Homo sapiens: one gene and its partners. The protein of the gene in region 3 binds, or shares a complex with, the protein of the main gene of each other region. Each region holds a gene or a part of one and is shown on either strand. Other genes may lie near its edges.

What was found.
Region 1: the proteins of RANGAP1 (region 3) and SENP2 are in contact, whole or in part, in a crystal structure (PDB 2IO3), measured with the Homo sapiens proteins. Residues at the interface, in NP_001265580.1 of Homo sapiens: Glu467, Asn508, Thr511, Thr514, Arg515, Val518, His519, Leu523, Lys524, Ser525, Glu526, Asp527, Val529; in NP_067640.2 of Homo sapiens: Tyr408, His409, Trp410, Val477, His478, Asp495, Met497, Gly498, Gln499, Lys500, Pro536, His537, Gln541, Gln542, Asn544, Gly545.
Region 2: the proteins of RANGAP1 (region 3) and XPO1 are in contact, whole or in part, in a cryo-EM structure (PDB 9B62), measured with the Homo sapiens proteins. Residues at the interface, in NP_001265580.1 of Homo sapiens: Ala2, Asp5, Ile6, Leu9, Ala10, Thr12, Leu13, Ala14, Thr16, Gln17, Val18, Ala19, Gln22, Leu23, Ser24, Phe25, Lys28, Glu44, Arg55, Ala561, Thr564, Lys565, Pro566, Ser568, Glu571, Ser572, Ser574, Phe575, Arg577, His578; in NP_003391.1 of Homo sapiens: Lys245, Ser248, Thr249, Tyr252, Lys253, Glu281, Gln282, Val284, Thr285, Leu289, Met292, Gln293, Gln296, Arg340, Asn342, Leu343, Lys514, Val518, Ile521, Lys522, Leu525, Glu529, Arg532, Lys534, Lys537, Ala538, Ala541, Met545, Phe554, His558.
Region 4: the proteins of RANGAP1 (region 3) and RAN are in contact, whole or in part, in a cryo-EM structure (PDB 9B62), measured with the Homo sapiens proteins. Residues at the interface, in NP_001265580.1 of Homo sapiens: Ser29, Gly58, Asn59, Thr60, Asp86, Thr89, Gly90, Arg91, Leu92, Arg93, Ile96, Asp121, Ala123, Phe124, Gly125, Asp127, Asn151, Cys152, Gly153, Met154, Gly155, Arg189, Asn190, Arg191, Gln217, Asn244, Asp245, Asn246, Thr247, Asp273; in NP_006316.1 of Homo sapiens: Asp18, Gly20, Tyr39, Val40, Ala41, Thr42, Leu43, Gly44, Val45, Glu46, Glu70, Lys71, Leu75, Arg76, Tyr79, Asp91, Thr93, Ser94, Arg95, Val96, Thr97, Asn100, Lys123, Asp128, Arg129, Lys130, Lys132, Lys134.

Annotation. Positions count from the first base shown.
Region 1 is NC_000003.12:185,588,894-185,597,054, reverse strand, and holds part of SENP2 (sentrin-specific protease 2), read right to left. Parts: intron 6,942-8,161; coding exon 6,886-6,941; intron 1-6,885. UniProt on the Homo sapiens protein: Protease that catalyzes two essential functions in the SUMO pathway.
Region 2 is NC_000002.12:61,528,062-61,536,222, forward strand, and holds part of XPO1 (exportin-1), read right to left. Parts: intron 6,618-8,161; exon of another isoform or gene 6,362-6,617; intron 5,843-6,361; 5' UTR 5,837-5,842; coding exon 5,711-5,836; intron 1-5,710. UniProt on the Homo sapiens protein: Mediates the nuclear export of cellular proteins (cargos) bearing a leucine-rich nuclear export signal (NES) and of RNAs.
Region 3 is NC_000022.11:41,282,304-41,291,211, forward strand, and holds the start of RANGAP1 (ran GTPase-activating protein 1), read right to left. Parts: upstream 3,885-8,908; 5' UTR 3,683-3,884; exon of another isoform or gene 3,368-3,682; coding exon of another isoform or gene 3,241-3,367; exon of another isoform or gene 3,060-3,240; intron 2,851-3,059; exon of another isoform or gene 2,598-2,850; intron 2,540-2,597; exon of another isoform or gene 2,460-2,539; intron 1,480-2,459; exon of another isoform or gene 484-1,479; intron 1-483. UniProt on the Homo sapiens protein: GTPase activator for RAN. Converts cytoplasmic GTP-bound RAN to GDP-bound RAN, which is essential for RAN-mediated nuclear import and export. Mediates dissociation of cargo from nuclear export complexes containing XPO1, RAN and RANBP2 after nuclear export.
Region 4 is NC_000012.12:130,874,538-130,878,811, reverse strand, and holds the end of RAN (GTP-binding nuclear protein Ran), read right to left. Parts: intron 4,267-4,274; coding exon 4,079-4,266; intron 3,201-4,078; coding exon 3,030-3,200; intron 2,931-3,029; coding exon 2,886-2,930; 3' UTR 1,134-2,885; downstream 1-1,133. UniProt on the Homo sapiens protein: GTPase involved in nucleocytoplasmic transport, participating both to the import and the export from the nucleus of proteins and RNAs. Switches between a cytoplasmic GDP- and a nuclear GTP-bound state by nucleotide exchange and GTP hydrolysis.

The DNA of each region.
Region 1 (8,161 bases), on a different chromosome or scaffold from region 3:
TGGTGAAATCCCGTCTCTAAAAAAAATACAAAAATTAGCTGGGCTCAGTGGTGTGCGCCTTTAGTCCCAGCTACTTGGCAGGCTGAGGCAGGAGAATTGCTTGAACCTGGAAAGCAGAGGTTGCAGTGAGCTGAGATCGTGCCATTGCACTCCAGCCTGGATGACAGAATGAGACTCCGTCTCACAAAAAATAAACAAATAAATAAATAAATAAACTTTTACCACAGAGGTGAGGGCATGATTAAACAACAAGGAGCATATAGCCACCGAGTACGGCAGAATTCTACAGGAAGCACTGTCATAGTCTCACTAGCTTGTCCTTACTTCCCAGGCAGGTAACAATATACTGTAGTTGCCCTAAACAACTATTTACTAAGCCCGTATTATAGCTTGGCTAAGTAAAGTATAAAATATGCAGCTTTTTTTTTTTTTTTGAGACAGGGTCTTACTCTGTCACCCAGACTGGAGTGCAGTGGCATGATCACTACTCACTGCAGCCTCAACCTCCCAGGCTCAAGTGATCCTCCTACCTCAGTCTCCTGAGTAGCTGGGATCACAGGCATGCACCACCATGTCTGGCTAATTTTTTTGATTTTTTGGTAGAGGCAGGTCTCACTATGTTGCCCAGGCTGGTCTGGAACTCCTGGGCTCAAGTGATCCTTCTGCCTCAGCCTCCCAAAGTGCTGAGATTACAGGTGTATGCCACTGCACCTGGCCTAAAATATGCAGCTTTTAAACATCTAAGATAGAACAAGACTATCCCTCTAGTGGAGATGTGTTAGAAGATCTTAGGCTGGGCACGGTGGCTCAAGCCTGTAATCCCAGCACTTTGGGAGGCAAAGGCGGGCAGATCACTTGATGTCAGGAGTTCAAGACCAGCCTGACCATCATGGCGAAACCGTCTCTACTAAAAATACAAAAATTAGCTGGGCGTCATGGCACACACCTATAATCCCAGCTACTCTGGAGGCTGAGGCAGCAGAATCGTTTGAATCCAGGAAGCGGAGGTTGCAGTGAACCAAGATGGCACCACTGTACTCCAGTCTGGGCAACAGCGTGAGACTCCATCTCAAAATAAATAAATAAATTAGCTGGGCCTGGTGGCACATGCCTGTAATTCCAGCTACTTGGGAGGCTAAAGCAGAAGAATCGTTGGAACCCGGGAGGTAGAGGTTGCAGTGAGGTGAGATCACGGCACTGCACTCCAGTCTGGGTGACAGAGGGAGATCCTGTCTCAAAAAAAAAAAAAAAAAAAAATCTCAGGCTCACCCTTCCTTGCCACCAAAAATAAAAGGAAAGGGTAGGTTTCAGTGCTTTCCTCACTTCCTCCTTTTATTACACTACCTCTTTCTCACTTTCTATATATCTGATGTAAGCTTTCTACAATATCCTATGTCCTAATTAAGGGTATTTGAAGACGCTAGTTTGAGAAAAACAGAACATCACATTAGCCATTCTGCTTTAGAGAAAGATAGACTGCAATGGTAGCTTTTAAGCAGTGCTCCAGAACATGTAAACTACTTTCCAGAAACATAGGGGAATAACAAACAAAAGGGAAAAAGTAATGGCCAGGTAAAGCACAATCCAATTTGAGAAATTTGCTAATAGTTATAAGTACCAAACTATGCAAATGAGTTGTTTTTCATTTTAGGAATCAGAGAATTCCAGGTTATCCCCTTCTAATAGTGCTGAGGGATAGTACACACTCTGCTGCACTTTCTAAGGAGGAGAAGAAGAGCTTTAGCGATTGATGCTTAACCCACAGTCTGTCATCCAGACTCTAGAGGACAAGAAGCCTCTTGGTAACATAGCAAATTGTGGCTACTAAACAATATCATAATATTTATTTTCCTACGAATGTTATCAAAATCTCGGTATGCCCCTGAGATTATGTCAAAAGATCTCACTGATTTTTTTAAAAAACAGAAGGCCTGCCTCATCTGTAAAATGGGGAAAAGATCACCTTACTTCCCTGAAACTAGACTACATAGATCTCTTAAAATCTCTTTCACCTTTAAGGTCATGAGCCTGAGCCAGGTACGGTGGCTCACACCTGTAATCCCAGCACTTTGGGAGGCCAAGGTGGGTGGATCACTTGAGGTCAGGAGTTCAAGACCAGCCTGGCCAACACGGTGAAACCCTGTCTCTACTAAAATACAAAAATTAGCTGCACTTTGGGAGGCCAAGGAGGGTGGATCACTTGAGGTCAGGAGTTCGAGACCAGCCTGGCCAATATGGTGAAACTCCGTCTCTACTAAAATATAAAAATTAGCTGGGCATGGTGGTGCACACCTGTAATCCCAGCTACTCAGGAGACTGAGGCAGGAGAATCGCTTGAACCTGGGAGGTGGAGGTTGCAGTGAACCGAGATTGTGCCACTGCACTCCAGCCTGGGTGACACAGCGAGACTCTGTCCCAAAAAAAAAAAAAAAAAGATCATGAGCCTGAAATTCTGAGGTCTTCTTTCTTTTCTTTTACCCTTGCTTTGCTTTTTTTTCTCTCAAAAGCAACCAATGGAGTTGTACTGTCCAACACAGTAGCTAGTAGCCAGATATGGTTACCTAACTTAAAGTTTTATTAGAATCAAATAAAGTTTAAAATTCAGTTCCTCAGTTGAACTAGCCACATTTCGAGTGCTCAACAGTTATCACTGCAGGAAGTTCTCTTGGGCAGCACTTTACAGGCCTTTACAAACTCTGCTACCCACCGCTTACCCTTTGGTTTAGATTCCCTTCTACAATTTGCCATTCAGAAAATCATACTACATATTTAATGGGAATGATGCAATAAGTGATCCTTAACATAGAATCCATAAAACAGATGATTGTCCTAAATAATTAAGTCAGAAACCTTCTGTAATACCAACGTTTGTGTGTGTTTTTTTTTTTTAACCACATCCAAGTACAAGCTATTTATATTTTTCTTTAAAACTGACTTCCTTTTTTGGCTTAAAAAAAAAAGATAATTTTAAATTACTACTGTATATGTAAAGCCAACATCACCTGCCTTATAAAGAAATGAAAACACAGCCGGGTGAGGTGGCTCACGCCTGTAATACCAACACTTTGGGAAGCCGAGGCGGGCGATCACTTGAGGTCAGGAATTCGAGACCAGTCTGGCCAACATGGTGAAACCCTGTCTCTATTAAAAACACAAAAATTAGCCGGGCATAGTGGTGGGCGCCTGTAATCCCAGCTACTCGGGAGGCTGAGGCAGGAGAATCACTTGAACCTGGGAGGTGGAGGTTGCAACAAGCCAAGATCGCACCATTGCACTGCAGCTTGGGCAACGAGAAAGAAACTCCGTCTCAAAAAAAAAAAAAAAAAGAAATGAAAACACAATAATACTAAGTTCTAGTTGGGCCTGTTAAAAAATGGGAGATTAGCATATATTAGACAAGTATTGAAGATATACTAGCATTAAATCAAGATTTTCTGTGTGAAATAAACAGGATGTGAGCACCTCAAATAAATAACTGAAAAGGATACACCTTTCTTAGTACATAATCATCATTCAAATGTTACATAATGCTGTGAATGTTGAATCCCCTAAAATCATTTCCTAAATTGGTATCTATCCTGTGCTTTGGGAAATACTGTTCTAATGAATTTAGTATAAATTCCTGTCATTTGAAAATCCTTGGCCGGGGATGGTGGTTCACGCCTGTAATCCCAACATTTTGGAAAGCCAAGGTGAGAGGATCACTTAATTAAGCCCAGGAGTTCGAGATCAGCCTGAGCAATATAGCAAGACCCTGTCTCTATTAAAAAACTAAACAAAACAAAACAGAACGATAATTTGATCTACCTGTCTTCAGCCATTTTTTTTCCCTGAGCTCTATTCACTATTTCTTGAATTTACACAACTTTCCCATACTATTCCCTCTGCCTAGAATATTTTTCCTTCCTATTGCTCTCCTTTGATATCCTATCCATCCTTCAAGACCTGGGCTAACATACTAACTCATACTAACTCCCGCAAACATTTACTGAGACTCGATGAGCTGAAAATTGGATAGGATTTTGTTACTATCTTTGTTTTTTTATTTTTTATATTTTCATTGACATTAGCATTATTATGTGATTGTCTTATACCCCCTACCATATTATCATATAAGGTCCTTAAAAATGGAGACCCAGGCCGGGCACGGTGGCTCACGCCTGTAATTCCAGCACTTTGGGAGGCCAAGGCAGGTGGATCACTTGAGGTCAGGAGCTTGAGACCAGCCTGGCCAACATGGCGAAACCCTGTCTCTACTAAAAATACAAAAATTAGCCGGGTGTGGTGGTGGGCACCTGTAGTCCCAGCTACTTGGGAAGCTGAGGCAGGGGAATCACTTGAACCTGGGAGGCGGAGGTTGCAGTGGGCCGAGAATGTGCCATTGCACTCCAGCCTGAGCAACAGAGCAAGACTCCATCTCAAAAAAAAAAAAAAAGGAGACCCTGTCTTACTAATTTTTGTATTTTCTGTAAAACCTAACACATTGGTTAGCACTGAGACATGCTCAATAAGTACTCACTGAATTTAAACGAAATATTAACACAAATATGTCCACACTCAATTACCACATCTGGAGGTAGACCCAAATTTATAATCATTTTTGAGAAAGAGGAATATATTATTATAGCATTTTACTATGCCTTTTTCCTTTAATCTACTTTTATTTTCTTTATCCATTCAGATATACTGAAGTAAAAGACTTGGCTGGGCACAGTGGCTCATATCCATAATCCCGGCACTTTGGAAGGGCAGGAGTTCCAAGATCAGCCTGGGCAACATATGGAGACTCAGTATCCACATACAAAATAATTTGCCAGGTGTGGTGGTATGGGCCTATAGTCCCAGCTACTCAGGAGACTGAGGCAGGAGGATTGTGTGAGCCCAGGAGTTTGAGACTGCAGTGAGCTACGATCGTGCCACTGCACTGAAGCCTGGGCAACACAGTGATACCCTTGCCTCTTACAAAATTAAAAAAAAAAATTGTTGATGACAAGATCAAGACAGAGCAAGATCCTGTCTCAAAAAAAAAAAAAAAAAAAAAAAGAAATATTACCGGTTCTTAAAGACAGGAGTATTCTTTCAAAATGCCACTGCTGCCTATTTTCAGCCTGGACAATGTGGCAAGACCCTGTTTCTACAAAAAAAATACAAAAATCAGCTAGGTGTGATAACGTGCCTGTAGGCCCAACCAACTACTTGGGAGGCTGAGATGGAAGGATCACCTGGGCCCAGGGAGGTGGAGGCTGCAGTGAGCCATGATTATGCCACTGCATCCCAGCCTGGGTGACAGAATGAGACCCTGTCTCGAAAAAAAAAAATAGAAAAGATGGGTTCCCTCAGCCATCTGAACTAGAGTCACCTCAGTTTGAAACATTTACAACATTTCCTCCTTAAAAATAAGTAGGGCCAGGCGCGGGGGCTCACGCCTGTAATCCCAGCACTTTGGGAGGCTGAGGCAGGTGGATCACGAAGTCAGGAGACTGAGACTATCCTGGCTAACATGGTGAAACCCCGTCTCTACTAAAAATACAAAAAATTAGCCGGGCATGATGGCGGGCGCCTGTAGTCCCAGCTACTCAGGAGGCTGAGGCAGGAGAATGGTGTGAACCCGGGAGGTGGAGGTTGCAGTGAGTCGAGATTGCACCACTACACTCCAGCCTGGGTGACAGAGCGAGACTCCATCTCAAAAAATAAATAAATAAGAAGTATCTTTTCTTTGTAGAATGATTTAGAATTTTAAAATGCACAGTCTACACCTAGGCTTATTTACCTGCAAGGATTAGACAAGTCCCTGGTAACAGTAGTTACCTCTAGAAAAGATAAGAAAGGGATAGGAAAGAGACTTTCTTGGGTTGGGTGCGGTGGCTCACGCCTGTAACCCCAGCACTTTGGGAGGCCGAGGCGGGCAGATCACGAGGTCAGGAGATGGAGACCATCCTGGCTAACACGGTGAAACCCCATCTCTACTAAAAATACAAAAAAACTAGCCAGGTGTGGTGGTGGGTGCCTGTAATCCCAGCTACTCGGGAGGCTGAGGCAGGAGAATGGCGTGAACCTGGGAGGCAGAGCTTGCAGTGAGCCGAGATTGCGCCACTGCACTCCAGCCTGCGACAGAGCAAGACTCTGTCTCAAAAAAAAAAAAAAAAAAAAAAAGGAGACTTTCTTTTTTTTTTTTTTTTTTTTTTTTGAGATGGAGTGTCGCTCTGTCGCCCAGGCTGGAGTGCAGAGTGCAGTAGCAGATTCTTGGCTCACTGCAACCTCCGCCTCCCAGGTTCACGCGATTCTCGTGCCTCAGCCTCCCGAGTAGCTGTGACTATAGGCGTGCACCACTTGGCTAATTTTTTAATGTTTAGTAGAGATGGGGTTTCACCATGTTGGCCAGGCTGGTCTCAAACTCCTGACCTCAAGTGATCCTCCCACCTCAGCCTCTGAAGTGCTGGAATTAAAGGTTTGAGCCACCACGTCGGGCCAGGAAAGAGACTTAAGTTTTTTTGTTTTTTTTTTTCCTGACACAGTCCTGCTCTGTCGCCCCAGGCTGAAGTGCAATGGCACCATCTTGGCTCACAGCAACCTCCACCTCCCAGGTTCAAGCGATTCTCCTGCCTCAGCCTCCCGAGTAGCTGGGATTACAAGCTCCTGCCACCACAGCAAGCTAATTTTTGTATTTTTAGTAGAGACAGGGTTTTGCCATGTTGGCCAGGCTGGTCTCAAACTCCTGACCTCAGGTGATCCGCCTGCCTTGGCCTCCCAAAGTGCTAGGATTACAGCCACTGCGCCCGGCCAAGACTTACTTTTTACCAGATACTTTTTACCTTTTGAATTTTGTTCCATGCATATATTTTTCCTATTTAAAAACTAAAAATTTTTAAAATTTATATTCAGTACCTAATCTTGGTCTTTTGGCTGGTATTTCATCAGTGTCCACTGTAGAAAACAGAGTGCTGAAAAAGAGAAAGAAAAAAATATATATATATAGATTTACACACACATTCATTTCTGTAAGTAAACTTACTATTCATATAACACATCCCCCTTCTATCACTTTGTCATAAAATGAGATCCAACTGATGTTTTAAAAGAGAATGCTGGTGGGACACAGTGGCTCGTGCCTGTAATCCCAGCACTTTGGGAGGCCAAGGGGGAGGATCGCTTGAGCCTTGGAGTTTGACATCAGCCTGGGCAACAAAGTAAGACCTCATCTCTACGATAAAAAAATAAATAAAAAATTAGCCAGCCTTGGTGGTAAGTGAGTGTGGTCCCAGCTACACTAAGGCAGGAGGATCACTTGAGCCCAGGAAGTAAGGCTGCAGTGAGCCCAGGTCATGCCACTGCACTCCAGCCTAATCAAAAGAGTGAGACCTTGTTTTAAAAAGAAATAAAACTAAAAATAAAAGCAAAACAAAAGAGAGAATGCTATTCTATAGTAGGCTTTTCACATGCGAAGACTTACTGCTACAGTTTCAACTATTTGAGAGAGAAACAAACTTCTTACCAAATAATAATTTGCCATCTGGTTAAAGTACAAACTTAAAACTGGCCAAAGTCACTTAGCTAGTAAATGAACCCAGGTAAGAGTTTAGGACAGTATTTTCTCTTTCGCTCCAGAAATGATTTAAAAACAACAAACAAGCAATTTCCTTTTGAAAATGATCCCCAAAGAAAGCCATCTTTTACTTTAGGTGACAGTATTAATATGAACAGCCTTAAAAGACAATTCTTTTTTACTGTTTTTTCTTTTGTGTGTGTGTAAGGGAGTTAAAAAAAACTGTTCTACAACTTAAAAAAGACAAATCTTAATCAAGTGTTATATTTAACTTCATTTTTATCACGCAAACTACATTATGATGGTAATAAAGAACTTTGGAATTGAGGAAAGTTTCAGGACCCAGATGTCAAGAATGCTAAAGGGTCATAGTATATTACTCATCATCTCTCTGAACCCTTATGATCAATTATATTCACACATGCAAAAAAAAAAAATGAATAGAATGAGATCCCAGGATTCCATTCAGCTCATAACTTTATACATTCCAACAAGCCCTGCCGGGCTTCATTTTGACTGAAAATTGGTTTACACTGAGAAGTGTTGTTTTGGATTAAGGATGTGAACACCTAAAGTATAGTAAAGATCAAGGTTTTGATCGCCAAACCATGTTCCACT
Region 2 (8,161 bases), on a different chromosome or scaffold from region 3:
GACTACAGGCACCTGCCACCACGCCTGGCTAATTTTTGTATTTTCAGTAGAGACAGGGTTTCACTGTATTGGCCAGGCTGGTCTTGAACTCCTGACCTCGTGACCCGCCTGCCTCAGCCTCCCCAAAGTGCTGGGATTACACCTTTGTTCCTTCTTTAAAAAGTAATGGCTTTCATCATGAACTTAGTGTGTCTTTTCCTGTCCACATTTTCACGGCATGTGTGTAAATTTCATGAATAGGGTTGTACGGCTACCAAATTTTATGTTAATAGTATACTTAAAAATCTTTTAGGCTGGGCACGGTGGCTTACGCCTGTAATCCTGGCACTATGGGAGGCCGAGGTGAGCAGATCACAAGGTCAGGAGTTCAAGACCATCCTGACCAATATGGCGAAACCCCATCTCTACTAAAAATACAAAAACTAGCCGGGAATGGTGGCGTGCGCCTATAGTCCCAGCTACTCGGGAGGCTGAGGCAGGAGAATCGCTTGAATCCAGGAGCGGAGGTTGCAGTGAGCCAAGATTCCCCAAGAATCAGGAAGATTGCCCCAGTGCACTCCAACCTGGGTTGACTGCGTGAGACTCCCTCTCAAAAAAAAAAAAAAAATCTTTCCTGCAATTAGTTTTTTTCATTTGACAGTTTTTAAGATCCAGCCATGTCGACATTTTATTTATATATATATATATATATATATATATATATATATATATATATATATAGTTTTTTCATTTCAATAAGTTTTTCATACATTAATATTTTTACCAACAGCTTTTAATTCTATTGACAAAAAGCAATGGCTTAATCTTTTTCACTTTTGTATCTTTAAAGGTTGTTTTATAACTCAATTAGATCCTTCCTATTTCTTTTACCTATTTCTATTAAAAGTTGTAAGCAAAAAGTTTGGACCAGGTGTGGTGGCTCATGTCTGTAATCCCAGGAGTTCAAGACCAGCCTGGGCAACAAAGAAAAATTAATAATGAGCCAGGTGTGGTGGGACACGCACTTATGGTCCCAGCTACTCAGGAGGCTGAGGTGGGAAGATTGAGCCTGGGAAGTCAAGGCTGCAGTGAGCTGTGATCAAGCCATTGTGCTCCAGCCTGTGTGACAGAGCAAGAAAAAAGTTTGATGACTTTAAAATCTGTCAGTTATCTTTCTCTTATACTTTACTTTATCATGGGTTTAATTCTATGGTTATAAACAATAAAGCATCAAAAACAGGGTAGGAAGCACTCTCACAACCATTTCTGACAAAGATACCTTATAATCTTTAGCTTGGCTTTTATTCTAGTCTTTTTTAAAACAATCGTATGCTCGGGTGGGCACCGTGGCTCACGCCTGTAATCCCAACACTTTGGGTGGCCAAGGTGGGTGGATCACGAGGTCAGAAGTTCAAGACCAGCCTGGCCAACATGGTGAAACCCCGTCTCTACTAAAAATTCAAAAATTAGCTGGGCATGGTGGGGCGTACTTGTAATCCCAGTTACTCAGGAGGCTGAGGCAGGAGAATTGCTTGAACCAGGACCCGGAAGGCGGAGGTTGCAGTGATTTGAGATCACACCACTGCACTCCAGCCTGGGCTACAGAGTGAGACTCTGTCTCATTACAAAAAAAAAAAAAAAGAAAGAAATTATATGCTTATCCTGGCTTTGATGCTTTATTTTAATCATGACCTTTTCCTCAGGTAGGAAATACAATACCACATTCATGACTATCCCATACATCAATCAGGAAAACACACTGCTACACACTCAATAACTTATATGGTTGTTCTCTACCCAGAAACCCACCAGAACCACTGTGGTTGCCTGAAAAGATCAGACGCCTGCTTCCATTGTGAGTCTGTGGTTACAAGAGTTAATGTGTATACTTTAAAATACAATCATACACATTTCTATTTGATTTCATTAAAGGACTGATGGGCATAATGTGTCATATGAGAAATGACAGAAGGCCGAAAGAATAATGATGTGGCTTATCTAGGGCCAAAGCACATTTTAGCAGTGTTTTGGTCTTCTCCCTGAGAATATCTAGCTAGATAACCTTATCTAACTAGAGGAAAAGTTGTATCAAAGATCCTCACACAGTAAAAGTTACTTGGTCAAGTTACCATTTTGTCAGATGCTTTGAAGTGATAAGCATTCTACACAGAATCAAATACTTCCCACACTATCACCACTCACATCAATCGCTACATAAATAATATTCTTTCCTGTTAGTTGTAATTTTACTCTCTGATGCTACTTCTAGTATTTGCATTCTGATTTATTCTAATCCCACCATTCTTACATAATGTTCTTTATAAACTTAAAACCCCAGCAGGGGTTTAAAAAAAAAAGACACAAAAGCAAACTAAAGAGAGAAAACCTAGCATCTCCCTTGTACTACTAACTGAATGGTGAAAGCATTTTAGTTGCTAAGCAATAGAGTTCAAGATCTTTAACAGAACACAATATTGGAGAAAACATCCAACTCTTCCCGCATCTTTTTTCTAGCTGTCTACTTGGCTAAAAATAGAAAAATGCTGATAACAGAGGGTAGAGGGTAGTCCTAATGTTACACTGCTAAATATCCTACTATACTAACCATGTATGCAGAAGTTCTGTCTACAGATTAAAAGTCACCCTTGTAAATAATTTCTTCCCCTCCCCCAAGTTACACATTCCTTTAAAAAAAAAAAAACCTACCTACAGCTTTTTTTCCCAGTTGACTTTAAAAGCTTAATTAGCATAATAAATTTTTCTTGTCATTAGTGCATATTTTATGAGTAGCAAAAAAAAAATTTTTTTAATTTTAAGCAATGAGTATCACATATGCTAAATCATTTTCATTATACTGCTAAATGTACCCTTTAAGCTGAGTGCCTTCTACCTATCAAGCACTGTAATAGGTGCTTTTAAACCTCATAACTAACCCTCCAATCTCTTGTAGGACAGGTCATATTTGTACATGGGACTTAAGCAATGACTAGAGAGAGCTTCCAAGAATCAAATTAAGACGTCTAACACTAAAAATCATGTTTTCCACTATAGCAGCTCGCTGCTACTACTACTCCTTTTCCTTTGAAATAAGACCCCCAAGGAGGTGGTAAACGAAAAGTAGACTGAACTAACGACATAGGACTTTTAGAGACCAAAAGGACTCCTTAACCAGCTTTAAGCTCTAAATCTTGTTTCTTCATTTATAATACAAAATAAGTTTGCTAGTTATTTCTACGCAACTGATTTTGTCACATGATCTATTAACTACTGCAGACAAAATCCTTTTACTTTGGGAAAGTTAACCTATTGTCCTTACAAACAAAAAAATTTAGAAACACTTTTCTTAATCTACTTTTTATTAACAAGTCAATTTTAAAACAAACCATTAAATTTCTTAATACTATGAAACATTATTAAAAGCAGTATTGCTGTAATATATTCTCAATTACAAAAATTGCCACTAATTCTGTTACAAGCCATGAAGAACACTGCTCTATGTTGGTTTATTTATCATACCTTTAGATGTAGTGAACTAGTTTAGTGTGAAGATTAAACAGTATTAGTAGCTGAATCTATGCGGAAAAAATTAAATGCCCTTTTTCCCAATGGCTACAGACCTGTGCTTCCAATATTACATTCAGAGTTGAACCCAACCTTACTTTCATAGCTTCCTCCAAAAGCAGCTGCTTTCTATGCATCCATGCTAGAAGAAATGAAGCTTAAAGCTTCATGTTGAATGTATAGCATGAGTAACAACTAAATGACAGGGATAATAAATACGGATGGTTAATTTTTTCAAGAATGCTTTAGGAGATAATATACTGATCAAAACGCCCTAAAAGTATAAACCTGGGCTAACAAGCTTACAGAATCACTGCAAGAGTAATTTTTTCTACTTTTAGCGTTTCCATGGACCTTTTTCAAGTTTCTACTATAGTAAAAGCAGTACTGTTGCATTTCATAAGGGAATGGAAACATTTATACATGATGCTTTTTGGACTACTATAAAAGATAGTACTGTATCCACCTTATATATTTTCAGAAAGTGTAATGGCACTCAGGTTTAGGTTTTTTTATTTTATTTTATTTATTTATTTTTATTTTTGAGACGAAGTCTCATGCCGTTGCCCAGGCTGGAGTGCAGTGGCGCAACCTCGGCTCACTGCAAGCTCCGCCTCCCGGGTTCACGCCATTCTCCTGCCTCAGCCTCCCGAGTAGCTGGGACTACAGGCGCCCGCCACCACGCCTGGCTAATTTTTTGTGTTTTTAGTAGAGACGGGGTTTCACCGTGTTAGCCAGGATGGTCTCGATCTCCTGACCTCGTCATCCGCCGGCGTCGGCCTCTCAAAGTGCTGGGATTACAGGCGTGAGCCACCGCGCCCGGCCGGCACTCAGTTTCTTAATTATGCAAATATAAATATCTTGACAATATAAGTAACCTCCCATCTACTAGCTGAACATTTATCTAACCAGAAATCTACTGTTCTGGCAACAAAACTACCATAAAAGATTTCTGGCCAGGCGCGGTGGCTCATGCCTGTCATCTCCACACTTTGGGAGGCCAAGGCAGGCGGATCACGAGGTCAGGAGATGGAGACCATCCTGGCCAATATGATGAAACCCATCTCTACTAAAATACAAAAAATTAGCTGGGCATGGTGGCGCGTCTGTAGTCCCAGCTACTCGGGAGGCTAAGGCAGGTGAATTGCTTGAAAACCTGGGAGGCAGAGGTTGCAGTGAGCCGAGACTGTGCCACTGCACTCAGGCCTGGTGACAGAGCAAGACTCCATCTGAAAAAAAAAAAAGATTTCTGACCCAACTGCAAAACTTTTTACTCATTCAAAAACATGTTTGGGCCAGCACGCGGTGGCTCATGCCTGTAATCCCAGCACTTTGGGAGGCCGAGTCAGGTGGATCACCTGAGGTCAGGAGTTCCAAGACCAGCCTGGCCAACACGGTGAAACCCCATCTCTACTAAAAATACAAAAATTAGCCAGGCATGGTGGCGTGTGCCTGTAATCCCAGCTACCAGGGAGGCTGAGGCAAGACAATCGCTTGAACCCAGGAGGCAGGGGTTGCAGTGAGCTGAGATAGCGCCACTGCACTCCTGCCTGGACCACAGAGCGAGACTGTCTCAAAAAAAAGTTTGGCCCCACAGGTAAAAAATCAAGTTTTTTTTCTTGTGACATATACAATTTAAAATTGTACACACATTTCTGTTTCACCTTTTAGTTGGGTTCAAAAAAACCAAAAATCTTAAACTGATCAAAATTTGGTTTATGTTTAAGATAATTCCCTACATTAACAGTACCACTTTGAAAAGTGCACAAAATTCAACTAACATAAAAATACTTGGTATTCCTGTTTTTATTTAAACAAACATATCTGTGAAGTACTTCTGTAAATGTTTTAAAAGTAGAAGAATCGTATTAGTGCCAAACATATTAAGTATATATAAAAGTACAGAGAACCTTTAATACCTACAAAGTATTTAATAACATTTGGCTCTTAAGGACAAAACAAGTATAATATTCCAAAACAACCCACTCTAACCATGTCAAACATGCAATTTCTTTCTCCAAACCAATTTTCATTATGGTTAATACAGAATTCCAAATTAATGCAAACTATGGAATATCTTTTTTAAAGGTGATAATTTAAAATTTTATTCTAAACCCAACAACTCTGTTACACTGTCATAATGTTATAAAGTTTTGGTTGGCTACTTTACCTGGGCTCCTTCTCCATGGTATAAGCAATTCACCACATTATCTAATAAGTTGATATCCAGTTTTTGGCTGAAATCAAGCAGCTGACGAGCTGCATGGTCTGCTAACATTGTCATAATTGCTGGCATAGATTACTGAAAATAAAGAAAAAAAATTGAAGCTGCCTATCAAGTTTTGGTATTATCAAAAACTTCCTACAAGTTATTTTACTTCAACCATGTTATTACAAATATTTTAATGAATACTTTAGAGACTTTAATTACAGAAAACTGAGATAGTAAAAGCAAGTAACAAAAGCTGAAATTACTTAGCTATTTGATAATTACATAAATTATTATGGTCCATTCAACTTTTCTAGTGTTTAGTTTATACACCAGGAAGACTTTCCTATTCTACTAACATTTATAAAGTATGCTAACCTATTATTTAAACGCATCCACTATTAGGATTTTATGGTCCTAAAACGTGATACAGTTCAGTATCTTGATGTCAAAACTTTTTAAGCAAGTAGGATTAAGTTCAAGTGAATGTGATTTTCTTTTCTTCCCAAGTAGGGTCTTCTGAATAACTCAGTAAAAGCTCACTTCACATTATCTTAACTTTATAAAAATAATGCTATAAAGACAGAATGGGCCGAGCGTGGTGGCTCACACCTGTAATCCCAGCACTTTGGGAGGCCGAGGTGGGCGAATCACTTGAGGTCAGGAGTTCCAGACCAGCCTGGCCAACATGGCAAAACCCCGTCTCTACTAAAAATACAAAAATCAGCCAGGCATGGAGGCGGGCACCTGTAATCCCAGCTACTTGGGAAGCTGAGGCAGGAGAACTGCTTGAACCCAGGAGACGGAGTTTGCAGTAAGCCGAGATGCACCACCACACTCTAGCCTGGGCAAGAGAATGAGACTCCATCTCAAAAACAAACAAACAAAGACAGAATGATGTTAAAAATTAAAATGTGGATATACAGTAATTCCTATTGTCTACAGCAATGGTTAGCAGGAACCACAAGTCTAACATATCTTGGTATAAATGCCCTTAGCCTCTACAGAAATAACTTAGCTTCTACACTCAAACCATTCAAATTGTTTCAACCCTCAATGAATTGGGGGATTGAAATAAAGCTACAAACATATTTACTGAATATATGATCTAGGAAAAAAAACTTTATGGGCAATATGCCTAACAAGATTTTTTAAATTCCAGGTATTCATTGGCAAGGTAAAAGCTGTAAAAGCTTGCCCATTCCCAAATAAAAAAGAATTCTAACAGAAAAATGAGCTACTTCGCCTAAATATGCACTGGTTAAAACCTACTAGTTCATATGCAGTGCTATCCTTTTAAGAGGATTCTACTCTAAGATGCTGGCACACATCCACTTTTTTGTTGCCCAGAATTATAAAATATATCTTTCCTCTGCTTTTCTTCAAAGCCAATGCCACTCAAACCTAATTGGTTAAGTCAGTAGTCCTTAACCTTTTTGGGGGTCTAAGATGCCTGAGACTCTGAGGAACCAATAGCTCTAACCCAGTTTTTAAAAACTCACGATTTTGTATACAATTATAGAGGATTCAGGACATCCTGAAAGCCATCCATGGCACTCCCAGTTTAGTGTATTTAGAACTAACAAGGTCAGATCTCCACTTCTTCCCATTTTAGGAACTTTCGTGGACCAGAAAATGAGTAGCTAATTTCTTTACATTATATTTAGACAAACTAGCTTGGCAGGGCGGAAAAAAAGTCATTAATTCCTGGCTATTTTATAACAGCTTAAAAATGTCCATAACAATAATGGCAGCAAATTCTATTTTAATGCAATTGTCTTATTTAAATATAACGTCTGTTACAACAGATTAGAACTCCAAAAGATGAGTCACCTATGATTGATATGATGTAAAAATAATGTAAAACTCAAGAAATTAGGAGTTCAAGAATTGGTCCATTATTGACAAAACTGATGAGACTTCAAAACGTTTCGTAGTAGGCATTAAACAAACGTTTTTAAACAGCAGAATACTTGTTACACACCACAAAAAAACCTTAAGATCTAAATACTGAGAGGAAATATATATTCCACAAATGAATGTGTAAACTCTCCTCCACCTTCAAGTACCATAAAATTTAAAAGATCAGAACAATCTTAATTATTTGAGGCTTAAAAGCAATGTCCACAAAGCACCAAGATCCATGTATCAAAAGTTTTCAAATATTTCGGTTAAATATTGAACAAACTTTTCACCTATTTACTACCATAGTTGAATGCTAAAACAAAAAAGGATTAAGAAAATGACTCTTACAAGTTTCATTTTCAAATACACTGTTCTTATAAAATTCTCCGAACTAGACTGATGTGAAAAACGAGATTTAGAATAGAAGGATTTAAATACAGTAGTTTGCCATCCTTAGAACTAGCGGCTATCTTCGAAATCACCTACCTATTCCTGAACTGTACATAG
Region 3 (8,908 bases):
AGTAACTAAATAAATGAAAGAATTTTTTTTTTTTGAGACGGAGTCTCGCTCAGTCGCCCAGGCTGGAGCACAGTGGCGCCATCTGGGCTCACTGCAAGCTCCGCCTCCAAGGTTCATGTCATTCTCCTGCCTCAGCCTCCTGAGTAGCTGGGATTACAGGCACCCACCACCATGTCCAGCTAATTTTTTTGTATTTTTAGTAGAGACAGGGTTTCACCGTGTGTTAGCCAGGATGGTCTCGATCTCCTGACCTCGTGATCCACTCGCCTCAGCCTCCCAAAGTGCTGGGATTACACGCATGAGCCACCACGCTTGGCCAATAAATGAAAATTTTTAAAACAAGTAAAGCTTTGAGAACTCCTGCGCCTGCTCATGGTACTCCAGCTTTACTTGGAGTACATGTGAGATTAAATGTCTCAATGTGTACTGCCTATAAATTGAAGCCAGCTATATTAGACAGGAACGTGGAACATCACTACATACCTGAATAGTGTTTACTTTGTGGTATGAATAAACGTATCTGTGAGATGCTCCAAAAAAAGAAAAGAAACAGCAAGTAATCAGGAGAGACCAAGGAAGCAGATATGAGGGGCAGAACTAGGGGGTGCTATCCGAAAGGCCTCCTCCTACAACCTCCTCATTCTCAGATACAGTTGTGATACCCTGAATCCTCCCACCCCTAGGCTTCCTCTGGGTTCTAACTTATAACCCTGGTTTGTCTGCCTTTATCAATAAGCATGAATTATTATCCTGGGTAAGGTGTCCACTCATTCATTCAAAAACACATTGATTACTACTGTGTGCTGGATGTTGTTCCAGGTCAGCAGTATAGCAGTAAAGGAAGCATAAACCCTGACCTCTTGAAGCATATGTTCTAAATGACACATTTAGTATGTGATTTAAAAAAAAAAGGGGGGGGTTGGGGGGCCGGGAGTGGTGGTTCACGGCTGTAATCTCAGCACTTTGGGAGACCGAGGCAGGTGGATCACGAGGTCAGGAGTTCAAGACCAGCCAGGCCAACATGGTGAAACCCCGTCTCTACTAAAAATACAAAAATTAGCTGGGCGTGGTGGCACACGCCTTTAGTCCCAGCTACTCGGGAGGTTGAGGCAGGAGAATTGCTTGAACCCGGGAGGCGGAGGTTGCAGTGAGCCAAGATCGCGCCATTGCATTCCAGCCTGGCGACAGAGCAAGACTCCAACTCAAAACAAACAAATAACAACAACAACAACAAAAAGGCATTAACAACAACAACAAAAAGGCATTATTAGGAAATAGTTAAATAAAGATATCAGGGATTGGGCCATGCACACATCTGGGGGAACATGATTCCTGCAAAGGGAATAGCAAATGCAATGGCTCTTGTAGGGGCAGAGGGTTGGAGAAACTGCAACAGGGCCAGTGGGGCTGAAGCACAGAGAGAGAGGAAAAAAACAAGGTAAGAGAAGAGACAGTTAACAAGGGGCCCAAGTCATAAAGCCCATTTGAAGAACAGTGGCTTTCGCTATAAGTGACAAGGAAAACCACTGAAGTTTTTAGCAGAAAGCAGATGTCATCTGACGTACATTTTGACAGGATCACTCTACTTGCCACATAGAGCCTGGCATTTAGAAGGTGCTCAAGAAACGACCAGTTGAAATTGCATAAAAATTAACCAGGCCAGGGCCGGGCGCAAAGGCTCACACCTATAATCCTAGTACTTTGGGAGGCTGAGGTGGGCGGATCACGAGGTCAGGAGATCGAGACCATCCTGGCTAACACGGTGAAACCCGTCTCCACTAAAAATACAAAAAATTAGCCGGGCCTGGTGGCGGGGGCCTGTAGTCCCAGCTACTCGGGAGGCTGAGGCAAGAGAATGGCATGAACCCGGTAGGTGGAGCTTGCAGTGAGCTGAGATTGCGCCACTGCACTCCAGCCTGGGCAACAGAGCGAGACTCACCTCAAAAAAATAAAATAAAATAAAATAAAATAAAAATTAACCAGGCCGGGTGCGGTAGCTCACGCCTATAATCTCAGCACTTTGGGAGGCTGAGGTGGGTGGATTACCTGAGGTCGGGAGTTCGAGACCACCCTGGCCAACATGGAGAAACCCTGTCTCTACCAAAAATACAAAATTAACCGGGCGTGGTGGCACATGCCTGTAATCCCAGCTACTCAGGAGGCTGAGGCAGGAGAATCGCTTGAATCTGGGAGGCAGATGTTGGGGTGAGCTGAGATCGTGGCATTGCACTCCAACGTGGGCAACAAGAGTGAAACTCCGTCTCAAAAAAAAAAAAAATTAACCAGAGTCGGGTGTAATGGTTCACTCCTGCAATCCCAGCATTTCCGGAGGCTGAGGTGGGCGGATCGATTGAGCACAGGAGTTAGAAACCAGCCTGGGCAGTATGCCGAAACCCTGTCTCCACTAAAAATACAAAAACTAGCTGGGTGTGGTGGCAGGTGCCTGCAGTCCCAGCTACCTGGGATGTAAGGTGGGAGGATCACTTGAGCCCCGTAGGTGGAGGCTACAGTGAGCTGAGATCTTGCTGCTGTACTTCTGGAGACCCTGTTTCAAAAAATAAATTAACCAGAAACCAGCCCAGTGCAATAACTCACACCTGTAATTCCAACATTTTGGGAGGCTAGGCGGGAAGATCACTTTAGACCAGGGTTCGAGACAAGCCTGGGCAACAGAATGAGACCCTGTCTCCACAGAAAAATTTAAAAATTAGCCAGGTGTGATGGCATCTGTAGTCCCCATGACTTGGGAGGTTGAGGTGGGAGGATCGCTTGAGCCCAGGAAGCCGACGCTGCAGTTCAGCGGTGATCGTTCCACTACACTCCAGCCTGGGTGACAGAAGGAGACCGTCTCTAAAAAGATAAAAAAATTTAAAGAAAAACCAACAAAAAAATTAACCTGAAACCCCAGCATCTCTTGCAGTTCTGAGATGGGACAATTTGAGGGTAAAAGGTGGTGGTGAAGCCTCCAGATAGAATAGGGACAGAACTTCTCAGCTGAACGGGGGCCCATTCCTCAGTCCAAGAGAGAGCGAGACAGAGATGCACCCCTCCACACTCACTTTATAAACCAAGAAACTGGAGCACAGAAACGTAAATTGATTTGTCCAAGGTCAGCAAAGGATCAGCGCCAGAGCAAAAGCAAAGGGCTAATAGAGAAACATCCTCTCCCCGCTCCGCAGCAACGTCAGAGACTTTCTGAGGTGAGATGCATGCTCCTGCAAAGCGTCAGCAGTGACTCACATCGATTCCAGGGACAGCGGCGCCAGCCCGGGGCCCCCGCGGGCGTGGGCCTGCTGGGAGGTGGCTCTGCGGGAGCGACGCGCGAATACAGGCCGCAAATGATAGGCGGGCGGCGCAGGAGCCCCATCTGGAATCCCCGGCGGACTCGCACCGCCTCCGGTTGACAACAATGCTAATATGAGACGCCACTGCTAGCAGCTGCAGGCTGAGCTGCTCTGGCGAGTCAGACGCCCTTTAAGCCTCAGTTTCCCCATTTGTGAAAGGAGCCAGCGCCGCTCAACAACCCCACTCCCACCGCCACCCCTGGGGCGCTCGGCCGTCGAAGGCTAAGTGAAGAAGGCCGAGGGGGCAGGCAGAAGGCGCACACGGGCGCCACGCCCTCCTCGCCCCGCACCCCTGTTCCAGGCAGGTGACGGGGAAAGGAAAGGGACCCTGACTCTACCGTAAACAGGCGGCGCCGCCGCGTGGGGGGAATCGAGCGCGCGCCTCCGCCCTCTGGGGCGGGGACGGATTTAGGGTCCGGGTCAGGCCGGGGTCGCCACCTCCGGATCCAGCGGTCCAGATGTCCAGCCGGCTAGTCTGTTAGCTCTCTCGAGCTCCCGGCCTCACGCGCTTCCAGCACCACCTGCTCTCCGCACCGCGGCGGATGATGGCGGAGGAGGAGGATTTTGAAAGCCGGCAGTTTCTTTGCTTCGATTTGATTTGTTCGAGGCCCCGGCCGGCTTGCCCTCGCCCCGCTCGCGCGGCCTCTCGGGTAGAGTAGTCCGGTTCCCCATCTGGGAGCGCGATGGGGCGCGCACCGCGAACTACCCGTCCCATGGCGCACCGCGCGCAGAGCGTCCTCCACCGCCCTCCTCTTCGCCCTCCCCTGGTGGCTTCTGGCTCTTTCTCGCAGAGACCGCAGGGAGGTGTTCAGCCGGGAGCGCCCAGAGACTACAATTCCCAGAATGCGTTGCACCCAGGTCCCTCAGCTCTTCCGGAAAGGTTTTGTTCGCGTAACTTTGTTGATAACAGGTACTGCTGGCTGCTGGGTCTCTTGGGCAAGACACAGGTATCCATTTCCCGAAAGAAAAGACTCTTTTCCGTCCCATGAAACTGAAAGGGCATTCGAAGGCTTCCACATAAATATGCACAAATTACCTGATAATTAAAAAGGGGAAATAGTAACTATCGTAGAGAAGCTCCGCAGACACCACTTGAACGGCCACGTTAACATCAACAGCAGGACAAGCTGACATTCATCGCACGCTTTCTGTGTGATGCACTGAGAAAAACACGGCGTCACCGTCCGGTCTATAATGCATGACCTTAGTCTAATCATGAGAAACCCAAGCTGAGGGACATGGTACAGAATAACTGATCTGTACCCTTCCGGAAATGTCTGTATTATGTAAGACAAAGAAAAACTGAGGAACTGTTGCCGATTACAGGAAACGAAAAAGACAACTGAATGCAAGACATGGTCCTGGATCGGATCCTGGGTGGGGATTGCTATAAAGGACAATACTGAAACAGCAAAACTTGACTATATTAGATAATAGTATTGTATCAATGTTAAATTTATTAATTTTGATTATGGTACAGGGTTATGTAAGAGACTGCCCTTGTTCTTGGAAAAAAATGCTGAAATAATTAGGGACAAAAAGGACATGATGTCTGCAACCTTTATGGTTAAAAGAAATATACCTATACATATACATAGAGAAAGCAGAGACACAAATGTGGCAAAATGTTAATCAGTTAATCTGGTTGAAGAATATGGGAGTTCTTTGAACATTTTTGCAACTTTTCTGTAGGTGTGAATTTAAGCATAAAAACACAAACAGCGTTTTTTTTTTGTTTTTTTTTTTTGAGATGGAGTTTCACTCTTGTTGCCCATCTTGGCCTCCCAAAGTGTTGGGATTATAGGCGAGAGAGTGTGAGACCAGCCTGGGCAACATGGTCAAACCCTGTCTCGACAAAAAATACAAAAATTAGTTGGACGTGATGGTGCAAGCCTGTAGTCTCAGCTAAGGGCCTGAGGCAGGAGGATCTGGAGCCTGGGAGCTTGAGGCTGCAGTGAGCCGTGATTGCACCACTGCATTTCAGCCCTGGCGACAGAGCAAGACCTTGTCTCAAAAACTGAAAAAAGAAAAAAAAAAAAAGTTAAACAGATCATGCAGGCTGGGCGCAGTGGCTCACACCTGTAATCCCAGCACTTTGGGAGGCCGAGGCGGGCGGATCACCTGAGGTCAGGAGTTTGAGACCAGCCTGACCAAAATGGAGAAACCCCGTCTCTACTAAAAATATAAAATTAGCTGGGCATGGTGACGCATGCCTGGAATCCCAGCTACTCGGGAGGCTGAGGCAGAAGAATCGCTTGAACCCGGGAGGCGGAGGTTGCAGTGAGCCGAGACGCACCATTGCACTCCAGCCTGGGCAACAAGAGCGAAACTCCGTCTCTAAATAAATAAATAAATTAATTAATTAATTAACAGATCATGCCATATCCTTTTACACACAGCTCATTTAATCTTCACCACCACAAGGGAAGTGGGCATCATTACCACCCTTCCCAGCACAGAGATGAGAAAACTGAAGCTCTAGACAGAGTGTAACTCTCCCAGTTCTCAAAGTTCCTGAGATGTGGATCCTCTTTCCACCTTCCCTCTCCTTTTTACCTACAAGGCCCATGTCAAATGCTACTTCATGAGTCTCTCCCTCCTGCAGGTGCCCACAGCAAGATGCAAAGCCCCACAGCAGTTGGCCTGGGACTCTGGGGCTCTTTGACAGAGTTAACACTGTTCTTGGCAGTTTCCTCCTCAGCCTGGGAGGGTCTCCAGAGCAGACGCTGTATCCATCTGGGCAGTATCTTCTCTGGGCCTGGCCTGTCATAGGTGCTTCAGGTTTCCCCATTTGAACCAGATACCAGTCGGGTTACCGGATGTTTGCTTAAAATGAGTCATAGGCTTCCTGCTATTCCTGTGCTGCTTCCAGCTAGGACTGATCGAATCAGTCTGGATTTTCCTTGGGGTGATCCGCAGGCTCCCTTTTCCAATTTTACTTCTTGAGACTTTCCTTGGCCCTCACACAGAGACCTCCCAAAGGGAAGAGGAAGGTGGGCAGGGGAACATCTTAGCTGATCCCGTCCTCATCCAGCTGATAGGACATTGGGTTTTCGGAACTGGAAGGGAATTCTTAGACAACAGAAATTCAGTGGCCTTCAAGGACCTGGGAGGTAACAGGAAGTCATGGGGCTTGTCGGGGCTTGGTGGGGCTTGGGGGGAGTTAGAGAGTGGATGTTCTGCCTGAAGGTGTTCACATTCGAAGCTAAAAATCACAAACTCAGCCTGACAGCACCCCCTAGCAATCTGGATTCTGTCACTCCTATATCCTGATTTTTTTTTTTTTTTTTTTTGAGATGGAGTTTCACTCTGTTGCTCAGGCTGGAGTGCAGTGGTGCGATCTCAGCTCACTGCAACCTCCGCCTCCCAGGTTCAAGTGATTCTTCTGCCTCAGCCTCCCGAGTAGCTGGGACTACAGGTGCACGCCACCACGCCCGGCTAATTTTTGTATTTTTAGTAGAGACGGTTTCACCATATTGGCCAGGATGGTCTCAAACTCCTGACCTGGTGATCCACTTACCTCGGCCTCCCAAAGTGCTGGGAGTACAGTACAGGCGTGAGCCACTGTGGCCGGCCTCCTGAATCTATCTTAAACCTCTTTACAAATGGGGAGACTGGGGTTTGAAAAGGAACAGGGGGTTTGCCCAAGGGTGCCCAGTGAATCAGAAGAATCAAGAATCATCACTGTTTCTGGCCGGGCACAGTGGCTCATGCCTGTAATCCCAGCACTTCGGGAGGGCGAGGCAGGTGGATCATCTGACGTCAGGAATTCGAGACCAGCCTGGCCAACATGGTGAAACCCTGTCTCTACTAAAAATACAAAAAATTAGCTGGGCATGGTGGCAGACACCTGTAATCCCAGCTACTCGGGAGGCTGGGGCAGGAGAATCTCTTGAACCCAAGAGGCGGAGGTTGCAGTGAGCTGAGATCACGCCATTGCACTCCAGCCTAGGCAACAAGAGCAAAATTCTGCCTCAAAAAAAAGAATCATCACTGTTTCCAAGCAACACACTTATCTTCTCTCTTTCTCCTTCCAGCCCTTTCTCCAGCTTTCTCTCTTTCAAGTTATCACCTGAGAGCTAGTCTGCCTGGCCCAAGAAGTGTAATCATGGCCTTTGACAGATGGATAGTGTCATCCAAGACTATCTTGTTCCTTATTTCAACAAATGAAGAACTAAGGCCCAAGTTACAGTGTGACTTACACATGAGACAAGGCTGAGCATGGTGGCTCACAACCAACTGTAATGCCAGCACTGTGGGAGGCCAAGGCAGGAAGATTGCTAAAGCCCAGGATTTGAGACCAGTCTGGGCAATATAGTGAGACTCTGTCTCTACTAAAAACAATTAGCCAGGCATGGTGGTACATACTTGGAGTCCCAGCTACTAGGGAGGCTGATGCAGGAGGATCCTTGAGCCCAGAACGTGGAGGTTGGTTGCAGTGAGCCATGGTCAGGCCACTGCACTCCAGCCTGAATGATAGAACAAGACCCTGTCTCAAAGAAAAAAAAAAAAGAGAGAGAGAGAGAGAGAGAAAGAGAATAGAAGACAGGTCTCTAGGGTCCTTTTCTATTATTATTATTACTTTTTTTTTTTTTTTTTTGAGATGGAGTCTCACTCTGTCACCCAGGCTGGAGTGCAATGGCACAATCAAGGCTCACTGTAACCTCTGCCTCCCGGGTTCAAACGATTCTCCTGCCTAAGACTCCCGAGTAGCTGGGATTACAGGTTCCCACCACCATGCCCAGCTTATTTTTGCATTTTTAGTAGAGATGGGGTTTCACTGTGTTGTCCAGGCTAGTCTCAAACTCCTGACTCAGGTGATCCACCCACCTTGGCTTCCCAAAGTGCTGGGATTACAGGTGTGAGCCACCATTTCCGGCCTTCTAGGGTTGTTTTCAACATATACACTTCACTTGTGAGTGCGAGGTGAGTTTAAGGGGGAATCAGGAGAAGCAGAGAGTGTTCCAGGCCTTTCTCTGTTGTGCAGCCTTTTTTTGTTGTTTTTGTAAAGAATGTTTCAAAGACAAAAGCAGGCTGCCTCTGATTAGTCTGGTTTACTTAACTGAGTGTTTTAAATTCCATTCTGGTGCCTGAAAACGAACTTAATTGCCAATTGTAAATGGAATAAATAATAATATTTATGTTGGATTCCTGAAAACAGACCAAGGCTGCTGACTTGCCATTTAGTCAGATCAAAAACAAATGGCTAAAGTATGCCAGACATGTGAGGAATGTGGAGGGAAATTCCCAACACCCAACTGGGTGCTCGCCTGCAGCCCCTGGAGAGAGATGGGTCAGCCCACCTGCAGGGCAAGGCAGCCTCCCCCAGGGTCCCCTCCACTGGTGGGAGTGGGTTGGCTGCATCATCTATGAAGGACAGTCGAACCACATCTTTCTCAGGACTCAAACCAAGGGCATCCCACTAGAGCAACTATTTAACCTTGATAAATAACCATCATTACAATAATTCATTTGTTCTACAAATAGTTATCAAACATCTATGTTCCAATAGGCACTGTTCCAGCTCCTGAAAAATCCAGTGATGAAAGAGATTGAAAAGGATG
Region 4 (4,274 bases), on a different chromosome or scaffold from region 3:
AGGTTCCCATAGAACATTTAATAAACACTAGGGACATGAGAGAGCAGCGACATGGCCCTCGCCCTCGTGGCAATTAGTCTAGGAAGGGAAAGTCGCTATCGCAAATTTGCCATGCTGACTAGGGCTGAAGGCAATCTTGTAATGTCTGTAGTCGGACATCCAACTCAAGGTAAAAAGCAGAGTGAACTCTAAAGGAACTAAAGCATTAACTGGTAGGACCGACTTCAGGAGAGGGAAGGGGGAGTTCTGGAAAGCAGCATGCACACAGATCTCAAGATGCACGTGTGACCAGAGCCTGCAAGACCTTGTAGGAAATGTGGAGCAGGCGAGATGCATCAGATGTTTTTTGAATAGGACTCTGACCCCTTAACTAAAGATAAGGTTTCCATGGTTAGGTGCCGTTTCTCCCCACCATGCCCTCGGCTTCAAGGGTAAAAGGTGCTGCAAGGAGTTAGGATAGGTGCTGTCCTAGTACAGGGTCTGCCTCATACAGGGAAAGCTTAGTCTCACGTAATCTTGCTGGGCAGGATAGCCCTGTACAGCCCGAGTGGCAGAAAACATCATACACGATGTCCGTCAGTTTGCTGGCAAGAAAAGCTGAATCCAACCCTCATCCCATTTGCTCAGCAGGTAATTTTTTGTGTTTCTGATCTGTTTTTGCAAAAGAAACCAGAAATTCTCTGTACTTGAGTTCCTTCAGGTGAACAGTTAGCCAGGAAACCAGTCCTCTTTGGAGGCTATTTTGGAGTCTCATCTTTTCTAGACATTTTATGATTGATACAATTTTTTAAAAAATCCCATTCTATGTGGTTTTTTAAAAAAACTGGCTCTCACACAAATTGAAACTACTAATTTACCAGTTTCACATTATATCCACACAAGACCTATGCACTAACTATGCTTTTTCTTAATGACTTTGCTCTAATAAGCTATTACTGGTTTGCAGTAACTTCATATAAAGCTTTCAAGGCTTCCCCCATTAGACACGAGATTTCAAAAAATGGAGAGCAGACTTTTCCCATTTGTACAATCTGGAGAGAACTGACCCCTTCCCCGCCGCCCCCCCAAAAGATAATAATCTCTGCTAACTCTTCAGCATTTCCTAAAGCAAATACTAGAGATGATTCAAAAAATCCAGGCAAAGTAGAAGCAATATATTTTGCAACAATTATTCTTTCAATAAAGGACTTGTAAATTCTCTCCCACACCACGTTAGACAGGTAAGTGACGTCACTTCCAAATTTCAACTGTTACATAGAAGATCCAGAATGTCAACACCACTTGCAATCTCCACAAGGTTACAAACAACACATACACCTTCAATTCAAAATACCTGAATGAAAGGTTTCATCCCAATTATGGGGAAAAAACTTCCCATCTCACAGGCTGGTTAGAAACTGGTTCTGAATACAGCGTAACATACACAGCAATTCAGATCTTAAGAAACTCAACTGTTGCCAGTTAATACAGTAAGTAGAACTTTATTCAGCTTCACCCTTATTTCATTTTTCCATATATTTAAGTGATCCTTTCTATACCTTTTAAGGTAAGCAATCATCTCAAGATTATCAGACATCTAAAGAAAACTTTGGTAAACTGGACTATAGTAATCGTATGAGAAAAAAATAGCTCAAGATTCCTAACTGCTACAAGAATAGTGTTGATGGGATCAAACTCCTAATTATCCTAATAGACCTAATTCATTTTTAAATGTGGAAAATATGCAAGATAAATTAAATGCTTAGTTAAAAAAAAAAAAAAGTTTCACCAACTGTTCTCCATTACTGAGAAGCCCCCACACTGCCCCACTGTGCATATTCCTAGTATTTCATCCATGTCCTGCTCTGCTGTGCTGCCCTACAAAAAAACCCTCCCGGGGGGGAAAAAAAAACAAAAAAACGGTGTAGTGTGAACTGCTGAAGAACTTAAATGTTCAAGACATCTTTAAAGTCTAGGAGTACCTGAAAACTGTGGGTAAACATGGACCATTTTCCTTGCGTATCAACTTCACACTAAGCATCTAACATTCAAACAAAAAAGTGCAAAATTTGTAATTATTTTTAACAGCAAGAATTCCCAACCTCCTGCCATCCACTGATGTTCCATCCTGTTTGAGGTTCTACATTAAAACATGATTACTTTTGCCATAAAAGAAAATATTACCCTTAAAATATCTATTTGATATGTACAAACCACATTTTTATTCTGACAGGTCACAGATTTTGAGCAAGTGCTTCCCTAGGTGACCCTACCTAGCCAATATGAAGGTGGAGCAAACACTGCTTTAGCTTAACTGCACTAATATTTACACCATGTAACCCTTCTAACCAAATAGAATACTGCTGACCTGTCATCATCAGTTTGTGTGACATGGCTCAAATGTACAAAAATAAACATAGGGAGAAATTAACCCAATAGATTTCAAATTAAGTGATAAAAGCAAGGCAATTCAAATATTAACATGGCATAAAACTTCCCTACTTTAGTGGTTTCCAAATGCTATTTATAAACAAGGGATGAGTTCACTTGCTTAGATATTTGAAATACAACTTTATTCTGATTCTAAACGAAAAGGAATGGGAATGACAGTAACAAACAAGATTTCACCACTGAATATTGTGATGTGACTGCAGCAGTCTTATATATGAAACTCAAGGAATCAACTGCGTTCCAAAACAGCTAAATATGCAGGTCCAAACAATGAAGTTATTTTTTAAACTGCCACATTCACTCCGAAGCCCACTCATCTCCTTCAGCATCCCACAGATGAAGCACATGTTCCGCTTAGCTAGATAATAATGAGGTGGCACACACGCTGCACCGCTGACATCACAGGACAGCTGCCTATAAAACTAGACTTCTGACGCTGGGCTCCAGCTTCATTCTCACAGGTCATCATCCTCATCCGGGAGAGCAGTTGTCTGAGCAACCTAGACGAAGAGATGGAAAAACGTTAACACTCCAGATCAAAACTGCCAGGAATAAACAAGCCAAACCGAACAATCTGAACAGCAAAGTGGCCACAATACCTCTAAGTCGTGCTCATACTGTGCTGCCAAAGCTGGGTCCATGACAACTTCTGGTGGGGCGAGAGCAGGCATGGCAACAAATTCCAAGTTAGGGTCTCCAATGAGCTTCCTAGCAAGCCAGAGGAAGGGCTTTTCAAAGTTGTAGTTACTTTTGGCAGAAATGTCGTAGTACTGTTTAAAAGAAAGGTAAAATTACTTTTTAAAATTCATTATTAAGATGACGATTTTTCTAGGACATTGCAAGATAAGAAAATGTTAAGATTCTTGGCAAGGCATGGTGGCTCATGCCTGTAATCCCAGCACTTTCGGGGGCTGAGGTGGGATTGCCTGAGGCCAATAGTACACGATCAGGCCTGGGCAACAGAGCAAGACCCCAACTCCACAAAAAAACAAATTAGGTGGGCATGGTGGTGAGTGCCTGTGAGCCCAGCTACTCAGAAGGCTGAGGTGGGAGGATTGCTTGAGCCCAGGAGTTCAGGGCTACAGTGAGCTATGTTCATGCCACTGCACTCCTGCCTGGGCAACAGAGCAAGACCCTGTCTCGAACAACAAATATATAAATACACAAACATTTCAGCTGACCAACCGGGCCAACAGTGAAACCCAATCTCTATCATTCTTTAAAAACAGTAGTATAAAAAAGACAAAATTATTTCCGGCCGGGCACAGTGGCTCATGCCTGTAATCCCAGCCCTTTAGGAGGCCAAGGCAAGTGGATCACTTGAGGTCAGGAGTTGGAGATCAGCCTGACCAACATGGTGGAAACCCCGTCTCTACTAGAAAAAAAAGTACAAAAATTAGCCAGGCGTGGTGGTACACACCTGTAATCCAGCTACTAGGGGAGCTGAGACAAAACTGCTTGAACCCGGGAGGCGGAGGTCGCAGTGAGCCAAGATTGCGACACTGCACTCCAGCATGGGGGACAGAGGAAGACTCCGTCTTGGGGAAAAAAAAATCATTTCCATATATAATAGACACTGGTTAATTTCATGGTCTTACATATAATCTCCGCTAAGAGAAATAACTCAGGAAGTTTTAATTTTACACACCTGAAGATTCTTCTTTCGGTGGAAGACAATGGATTTCGCCTTCACTTTCCTGTCCTTAATATCCACTTTGTTGCCACACAACACAATGGGGATGTTTTCACACACTCGTACCAGATCTCTATGCCAGTTAGGCACATTCTTGTAAGTAACTCTCGATGTTACATCAAACATTATGATGGCACACTGGGCTGAAGAA